Regions from separate parts of the Homo sapiens genome. Here regions 1 and 2 are each linked to region 3. The links come from fine-mapping of genetic effects on gene expression. A gene starts in region 3. Each other region holds a variant in brackets. All regions are shown on one strand. Distances are from middle to middle.

Region 1 (2,763 bases), 160 kb before region 3:
GCCTCCTTCCTGGAATCTATGCAGGGGTGTATAGGCCCCTTTGCATCAACTTGGGCTAACGCTGTAGGTCAGCCCAGCTTCAGCTCTCCAGGGCATGGACAGAAGCCTTCATTCTGACTACATTGCATCCCAGCTTCTCTCTCTGCCCATTTAGCTTCATTTCCTGCCTCACTCCCCCATGAATGTTGAACTCAACGGCACTCTCCAGTAAACTTTCTGCACACAGATCTCCATCTCAGAGTTTATTTCTTGGGGAACCTGACCTATAACACTAGGTATATATATATTATGTGTGACTGAAATGTGGGTCAAGTGGCATGGAGACTGTGTTTATACTTATTTTCCTATTCACAGGGCATGCCAGGTTCATGCAATTTTAGTGGACAATTAAAAATTACTTTACAAAGTATCTCTTGCTTTAGTAGCATTTACTAGTTGATGTGCACCTGGTGGCAGTTTCAAAATGTTTTCTTCCATTTAGTAATTATCTGTTGCCAGATACTGCTCCACATGCAGGGACACAGCAGTGTGAACAGAGAGACAAAGTCCCTGTCCTCATGGAGCATAGTTTCTAGTGGGGGTAAACGAAAAATAGTTAGTAGATAAATAAATAAATAAATATGATTTCAACTAATAACAAATTCCAAGAAGGTAATAAAATAGGGTAACGGGATAGAGAGTGACTGGAGGGCTTTATCAGGGGTAGTCCTGGAGGACCTCCAGGAGGATGTGACATTTGAGCTGAGACAAAAATGATGAAGAGCAGATGGTTTACTATTAGGTTGCTGCAAAAGTAATCACGGTTTTTGCCATTAGTTTTGCAGCAACCTAATAGTTTGTAAGATGGCTTGTTTCAATTAGATAATTTTGGGTGCATTATAAATCTTAAGGGGGCCAATGGCTAGATACATGATACAGCCATATATTCAGGTAGAGGGATAATTGATCATATGTCTAGTCAGATCTGTAAATTTTTTTTCAGTATACATATTCTGTATACATTTTATAAAAACTACGTTTGACTTAGAAGACAGTTTTGGTGCTCTTGAAGACTTGACCCTGGCGGGGAGGATTTGAGGGGCTCTGTTGTTCAAAAGGAGAGCAGAGCGCCTCACTTGGAAGCTACTGTAGGAGGGTAGAGGGCTGTGTCTGTGTCCAAAGGGTGAGGTTTGTGCAGTCTGTGCCACATGTATAAAATAGGACTGAAGAGGTGTGAGTGCTGTGTTGCATTTGTTAATGCTGCCTGTGTTTTGCTTTTGCATAACAGGTTGAAATAGAAAA[G/A]AAGTGGATTAAAATCGATGGAGAAGACCCAGATAAAATTGGTGACTGCATAACTCAGTAGGAGTAGCAAGAGTTTATGATGACAGCCCACTTGTCAAATATGTAATTCACCGAAACCACACCAAGTCCTGCTACTGTAGAGTGGAAATGACTTCTGAATAGCGGTTTTAGGACAGGTCTGATGGCTGTGTTTAGAGAAGTTTAGACCTAAAACCGAACAATCTGTATTTTTTGCTTTTCATGTGTTTTTGTCCTAGGGGTTCGATCTAAAATGTTTCTATAATTCGTGTGATGTTTTGCTTCCTATTGAAACTCAAAGGCACTGTTACTCGTTGTGTGACCCCGCAGCCAGTATGATTTTTGATTACTCAGTGGCTGACTGTTTTGCTCTCTGGATTACTGAGGTGCCGTCTTCATTTCTTCCCATCTCTTCTTGCTGCTTAGTGTCTGTACTAGAGGGTAAGGGAATCAAAGGAGACATAAACCAAAATAGTTAATTTTCCCTCTTTCTTGCCTCTGAAATGTGGCTAGGTGTAGAATGATGTTGAAACCACAGGCTAAAATGTAGATCTGGAAGTATCTGTGCTTTTGAATTACTTATTTACCTGTCCTCTTACCGTTGGTAAATAATAATTGGCTATATTTGGTACCTGTCTCTCTCCTACTGTATTGTCATTTTCAAAATGTGTTTGTTTTCTGGCGCGTGCTGCAAAGAAGCTATTTCTGTTGTCCTACATATTTTAGTATAAATCACTAAGACATATTTCCTTTCACTTGGCAGGATTCCTTTCAAAATGGAATCTGAGTATTAGACACTAGTTAACATATTTGTGTATATTAAATATGAATTTTTAAAATTTATAAATACTATTTTCCAAAAGTACAGACTCTAAGGACATATTTTGATAAAGTATTATTTGTAATGAACACAAGCCTCTCTTGAGTAGAAGTCTAAATCACATTATGATTATTTTATACTAGTTCTGCTATCATGCTGTTTTATGCTAATTCTGCTTATTTTAGAGTATTTTTCATTAAAAGGTGAGCAAAGTGAAAGATACTTGGTATTTTACCCAGATTTCTAAGTGGCAACATTTTTATTCTTCAGAGTCAGGTAAATGACTATAATAGTTTGGTTTCTAATGAAAAGTCAATAGCATTAGCAGTTATAATTCTGTTTATAATTTCCTTTCAGCATTTACAGTGAAAAGTGAGAATTTTAAAATTTATGAAATCTATATTCCAGGTATTGTTTTTAGTCTGAAAAACAAACTCCCCCATGTGGTATTAATATACCTTCAATTTATGTTGAGTCTTAAACATAATTAGGAGATATTTTTCTCTATTTGCTAGATTTGTTTTGAGTCAAAACTGATTTAGTGTTCTTCCAAACAACATTTATGTGTTGGCCTACAGAGTTTATTTCATGTGTTTTTTTTAATATTTAATATTATATTACATTCATTGAAATCTGTTCAAAAA
Region 2 (2,763 bases), 21 kb before region 3:
GTGGGGTTAGGCAGGTGCACTGTGCTTTTCACAACAGATGTGTTCCCATGAGGCAACACAGAGAATGTGGTCCTGTGAATCGAAAACCATTTTCCCTACAGACTTATATGTTTTTTTTTTCAGAAATGTCACATCTTCATTTCTGATTCGTCTTTGATGGGTAGCAGTTCCTAAGCATTCAAGTATCTGTCTCCAGAATTTATTAATAAAGTTTATGATTTGTTGATAACTGTTTGAATGTACTCCCTTTGAAGGTGTCCCACTCTCTATTGGATGCATCTATGATTCTTTCCATGATGCCAGAAACTTTTAGCAATGTGAACAATGATCTTAATAACCCTGCAATTCCACTCCTGTATACATTGAGAAAAATTCTCAAATTGATACTTAAAGGAATCTTGTACAAACGTTTTCTTCACAGCATTGTGGCATCAGGGGCTTGGAGGCAACCTGGGTGTCCATTACTAGGTGAGGGAGTATGTAAAATTTGGACCGTACACACCTAACTGAATAGGAGAGCCTGTAGAAGTGAGAGTCTAAAGGCACACAGAGTAGCATGGGTGGATCTTCAAATCATGGAACTGAGAGAAACAAGAAATTACGGAGATATAATATACTGTTTGCAGAATTAAAATATATGTAAACGAAACACTAGACATTAACCTCCTCCTGCACATGAACATACACTAGGATTGTTATCTAAGGTGAGTTGAGAGGAACAGAAGTGGGAGAAGGAGATAAAATAAATAACTAAAAACAGAGAGGGACTTTGAATGGACTAGTGATAATGTTACTTGAATGAAGAAATATGACCAACTTAACCCTCTGTACTAGAGAGACAAATGGAAAATAAAAAAGGTTTATTTTGATGTATTGGCAGCCTGCTTGCTTACCTTTCTTCCTCCTCCTTCCTCCTCTCTCCCTTCTTCCCTCCTTCCTTTCCTTTCCTTCATATTTTTTTGGAGTTAGGCATACTTGTATTCCAATAGTTTTGTGAACTATTGTGGAAAGGTCTAGTCGGTATCATTTGATATAGAGCAGAAGCCAAGGAGAACTGAGGGCAAAAATGCCTAAGGCAAGGACAGTTCAGCAGCTCTGCTGTCCAGGGTCAAAAAAGGAATGAAAGCTATGCATAAAGCAAAGAAAATAAAGGAAGGACAGAGCCCTTTCTGTCTCAGCAAAAGAGGGTGATACACCACAACT[A/G]TGCACCTCAGATGGGTGGTAAAGAATTAGGGTTACTGGGAAAATATGAGGTTGAACTTGCAGGGTGGAGATTCTCTCTTGAAAGGTGAGACGGCTGTGGAAAAATATGGCTGTAGAACTATGCAGCTACTTAAATTTATTATATTTTCACAGTCTTTTTTGCAGTTTTGAACTTTTGTTTTTAAATAAATTGATGAGGCAACGCAGGTGGCACCTTGCCCAAGTGCCTTTGCCACAGATGTTGAAACAAATGCTTCAATTGGATTACAAAGTCTGCGTTAGCTTCATCAGCTTGGAACTTCCATCTACTCATTAATCTCATCTGCAGGTCCCCAACCCTTCTAGTTGTGTGTTAAAGTTGAAATCGAAACAGTCTGTCCTCCTTAGGGCTGGAATTAAGTCATTCATCCTAGTACTGGGATCTTGTGATTGGTCATGACTCTGGCGAGGCTTGTGCATCGTCTAAACTGGACCCAATAATATTAATATTTGGGGGCAGGAGTGCACCTGCAGTGCCTTCCCACATGCTATGCTGGTGTTTGTTTTTGTCTCGATTTCTTATTCTGTAGCTTGCTTGGTCTCCCCAGAATCCATCTAGGAGTAGGGCTTCTCTTAGTTCCTGCCTTCTCTTTTTCTCAATCACCAGATCCTGATCCCTGTATCTCTACCCCTTAGGGAACACTGCTGCCCTAGAACAGTTCCTGGTTGCTGTCTGGTTAGGGTCAAGCTAGTATCTCTTACTGCTTAGTTCTGACTTTCAAACTGGGCCCCTTGGCACAGACGGTGACCCTGTGTTAGGACTACCCAGTGGAGTTGGGTTACTTTCTGTAGTGGATACTGTGGTGGGCTACCCAAGTCACTCTTTAGTACTGACGCACCAATTTCGCCAACTGCTAGGAAAGAGTGGGTGGCTGAAGCTCTCAGCTGAGTTGCTCTCCTAGAATTATGCTTATAGACTGATGTGGTTTGGGTCTGTGTCCACCCAAATCTCGTGTCAAATTGTAATTCCCAGTGTTGGAGGTGGGGCTTGGTTGGAGGTGATTGGATCAAGGGGGCAGATTTCCCCTTTGCTGCTGCTCTTATGAGAGTGAGTGAGTTATCATGAGATCTGGTTGTTTAAAAGTGTGTAGCACCTCTCCTCTCTCTCTTCCTCCTGCTCTGGCTACATGAAAATGTGCTTGCTTCCCTTTTGCCTTCTGCCATGATTGTAAGTTTCCTGAGGCCTCCCTAGCCATGCTTCCTGTACAGCCTGCAGAACTGTGAGCCAACTAAACCTCTTTTCTTTGTAAATTACCCAGTCTTGGGTATTTCTTTATAGCAGTGTGAGAATGGACCAATACACAGACCAAGATTGCTACCTCACCCAGGATTATGTCTTCTCTTTTGGGCAGCCCTCATCCAGTGACTGGACAATGTATAGAATAAAGGCCCAGCCCCCTTGCCTCCGGGTGGGACTACTCAGAAGGACCATCCTATCTTTAGACCTTCTTCCTATCAATTCTTACCTGGGCCCTGACTTGATCCCCTTCCCAGCCAAATCCAATTGCCAAGCACTCAGTG
Region 3 (2,763 bases):
TCTTTTGTCTTTTTTTCCCTTTCTTTTCTTTCCTTTTCTCTTTTCACAGCTGTATTGAGATGTAAATCCTACACTATAGAATTTAAAGTGGACAATGCAATTGTTTTTAATATGTTCACACGCAACTGTCTCTACAATCTAATTTTACAAAAATTTCACCACCCCCCCGCCCCAAGCCCATACCCACTGATTAGTAGTCACCTACTGTCCCTCCCATCCGCTTCCCCAGCCCTGGTAACTACTAATCTACTTTCAGTTTATCTGGACATTTCATGTAAATAGTATTATAAAATATGTGGTACTTTTTTTTCTAAATAGGAGAAAGGAGACCTGATGACACCCTGATAGTCTAGTACTAAAGGCTCCCCTTCTCCTCTTTACCCCATTACTCCAGAAACAACGCCCTCCCCCAGGTTGCTGATGTATACAATCCCTCAATCAGGCCTGTGAGTGTGGAGGTGGTGCGCGGGTGCCAGCGGCAGGGCACAGGGCCTTTGGTCCATTAGACCATGAGACTGAAGTTCAAGCACATCTGGGCACGGTGGAGCAGCGGCTTGTGTGCTCACTAAGATGCCCGTGTGACTGCCAGCAGTCAGTTGACAGATTAGGTCACCCTTGGCCATAGGGCCTGAGCACTCCATTCCTAGAGGACCACAGGGTGCCAGAGCTCACATTCACCTTCCCTGACGTGGCTGGCCCAAGGCTCAAAGGCCTGTAAGACTTCTCTGGCAGAGACCCCTGCCAGAGGAGTTGAGGAGCGTCACACCCATATTCCCTTCAAGCAGCGGCAGAGAGCAGGCCTTCCCCTGAGGTTCCTGAATAGTTCTACTCCCCCGGCCACAGCCCCAACCAGGGGTAAAGAATGGGGCTGGGGCTCTCAGAGGCATGGGGTGGTAAAAACAACCACCAAGTTTTGGGTTCTCATCACCCTAAAACGTGGGGGAAATTTGATAGGGCAAAGCGTTTTTCTCCAAGCTTCCAGGGAAAGGGGGCCAAAGGAGTAGGGAGGGAAGGTGGCATAGAGCGATGGAGGGTCCTGCATCAAGGGCGCCGCGACGGGAGCGCTGTGTACTCACAGTCGAGTGAGACCGGCCGTGGGGCCGGGGCAGCGCAGGGCGCCGTCGGGCACGCAGTTGCAGGGCTCAGGGCAGAGCGCCTCGCGCAGCGCTCGTGGCAGCGGCGGCTGCAGCAGCAGCAGCAGCTTCAGCAGCTGCAGCGCCGAGAACCGCTGCTTCATGGCCGGCGAACTGGGCTTCTGCGGCTTGCCAGTGTCTTGGACGGCCTCTGAGTGCGGCCCGCACCCCTCTCCCCGCCCCTTGGCTGCCCTTCCACACACCCTTCCCTGCCGGCCCGCCCCTGCCCTCCCCCTCTTACCGCGCACCCCGCTGAGTCTGCTCTGCCTTGACCTGCGACAGTGCCCAGTGACCCAATAACCTCCTTCCTGCTACTTTCCCCTGTCTTGTCCCCTACCATCTGCAAATGGCCCTAGCTATAGGAGGTAAAGAGATTTAATGGCAAATGTTTTGGATTAGAGGTGGGGAGTTCTGAATTGAGTGAGTTGTGACGCTTCCCGGAACCCCTTTTATTTCATTTGTGAAAGGGTCCGATGGATACTCGCTATACCCACATCAGAAGGCGTAAGAGTGCCTGGCTCAGACATTTTTCCTCTCTTTTATCCTCAACCCCTAATCCTTTCCCCTTCTCTTTCACCAAATCCCTCCACTCTACAAGTAATCTTTGCCCATCCTCCCAACTACCCCAGTAATTTCTCTTGGTGGTAAATGCTTTCTTATTTATGGTATAGCTATTTGGCTTGGTCCTGTATCTCTTCTATAGATTGGGAGGTCCTTGAGAGCAAAATCCAATTCAGATTTATTTTTGTATTCCTTCTGGCTTCTACATGGTAAGTCCTCAGTAAAGATTTGTTGAATGAATGAATGAAACTGCCTAATACTGGTAGCAGCTGCCCCATAGAAGGCCCAGGATAGGCTAGACCTTGTAACAGGTGCTCTGCCTCACATCATGTTTAAGCTCCACATTGAACTAGCAGGGTGTTTGCGATGAGAAAAATGTCCCAAGAGGTATGTGGCTTCCCTGAAGTCACACGGTTTTAAAGTAGTGAAACCTGGAACTCATGTCTATCACCTACCACCTCTCACCAATGCAAAAAGCTGCTATGATCTACATACCAAAGAACTTAGGAGACAAAATTTTACGGTAATCATGGGGATCCATAATATCCCCTCTTTGATTTGATCATTTCTTCCTTCCAAGGATTCTGTTTGGATTCTGGAAATCCTAGCAGTTTTGCTGGAAGAGGTGGACTTTGAAAGCTGGGAAGGCATTTAAGGCTTTGAAGAGAGGAAATATAAGAATAGATTTCTTTCACTCTGAAGCCAGTTCTCAAGGATGGGCTCCTTCATTCACCATTCTACAGTCTGTTGCTCAAGGAGGGTAGATTATTATTATTTTAAAAACTTGTTTGGCTTTGGCCACATTGTGCTAGATGGCACAAAAACAATGCTCATGTCTATAATATTGTCTTCTCTGGATCCTCTCTTCAACTGCTTATAGATGACTCCTCACCCTTTAATACCTCTGCATGGGCTGTCCCCACTATTTTCTCTTCTTTTTCCATTATTCCATTAGATAAACTCCCAGTTGTCCTTCAAGACTCAGCCCAATGTCATTTCCACTTTGATTCTTCTCTGAGTCATCCTAGTTGAGTAGTTGTGGCCATAACACCTGGTTCTACAGCAGGTA

Alleles and levels. Positions count from the first base shown, and alleles are read on the strand shown. Sizes are in standard deviations (SD) of each study's normalised expression.
As copies of G replace A in region 1, the expression in sigmoid colon of the gene that starts at base 1,290 in region 3 goes down (moderate effect, 0.49 SD a copy in GTEx).
For the expression in tibial nerve of the gene that starts at base 1,290 in region 3, G is the low allele of the variant in region 2 and A is the other (large effect, 0.78 SD a copy in GTEx).

What was found.
Region 1: its variant is fine-mapped to the expression of LHCGR in sigmoid colon (GTEx, PIP above 0.99). The same link has a PIP of 0.9 or more in prefrontal cortex and prostate.
Region 2: its variant is fine-mapped to the expression of LHCGR in tibial nerve (GTEx, PIP above 0.99).

Annotation. Positions count from the first base shown.
Region 1 is chr2:48,593,961-48,596,723 of GRCh38, forward strand. The region is part of intron 3 of STON1-GTF2A1L (STON1-GTF2A1L readthrough); the gene reads left to right. STON1 (stonin 1) reads left to right here. Exons shown (of 4, transcript NM_006873.4): 4 at 1,268-2,763. The coding sequence ends at 1,342. Among named protein-coding and RNA genes, the nearest start is that of GTF2A1L, 23 kb to the right of the region's middle. The variant G/A (reference allele first, on the strand shown) is at 1,282.
Region 2 is chr2:48,733,655-48,736,417 of GRCh38, forward strand. All of the region lies in intron 10 of STON1-GTF2A1L (STON1-GTF2A1L readthrough), which reads left to right. All of the region lies in intron 1 of LHCGR (luteinizing hormone/choriogonadotropin receptor), which reads right to left. Among named protein-coding and RNA genes, the nearest start is that of LHCGR, 21 kb to the right of the region's middle. The variant A/G (reference allele first, on the strand shown) is at 1,204.
Region 3 is chr2:48,754,435-48,757,197 of GRCh38, forward strand. LHCGR (luteinizing hormone/choriogonadotropin receptor) reads right to left here and starts at 1,290. Exons shown (of 11, transcript NM_000233.4): 1 at 1,077-1,290. The coding sequence starts at 1,237. The region is part of intron 10 of STON1-GTF2A1L (STON1-GTF2A1L readthrough); the gene reads left to right. RefSeq lists an enhancer at 848-1,624.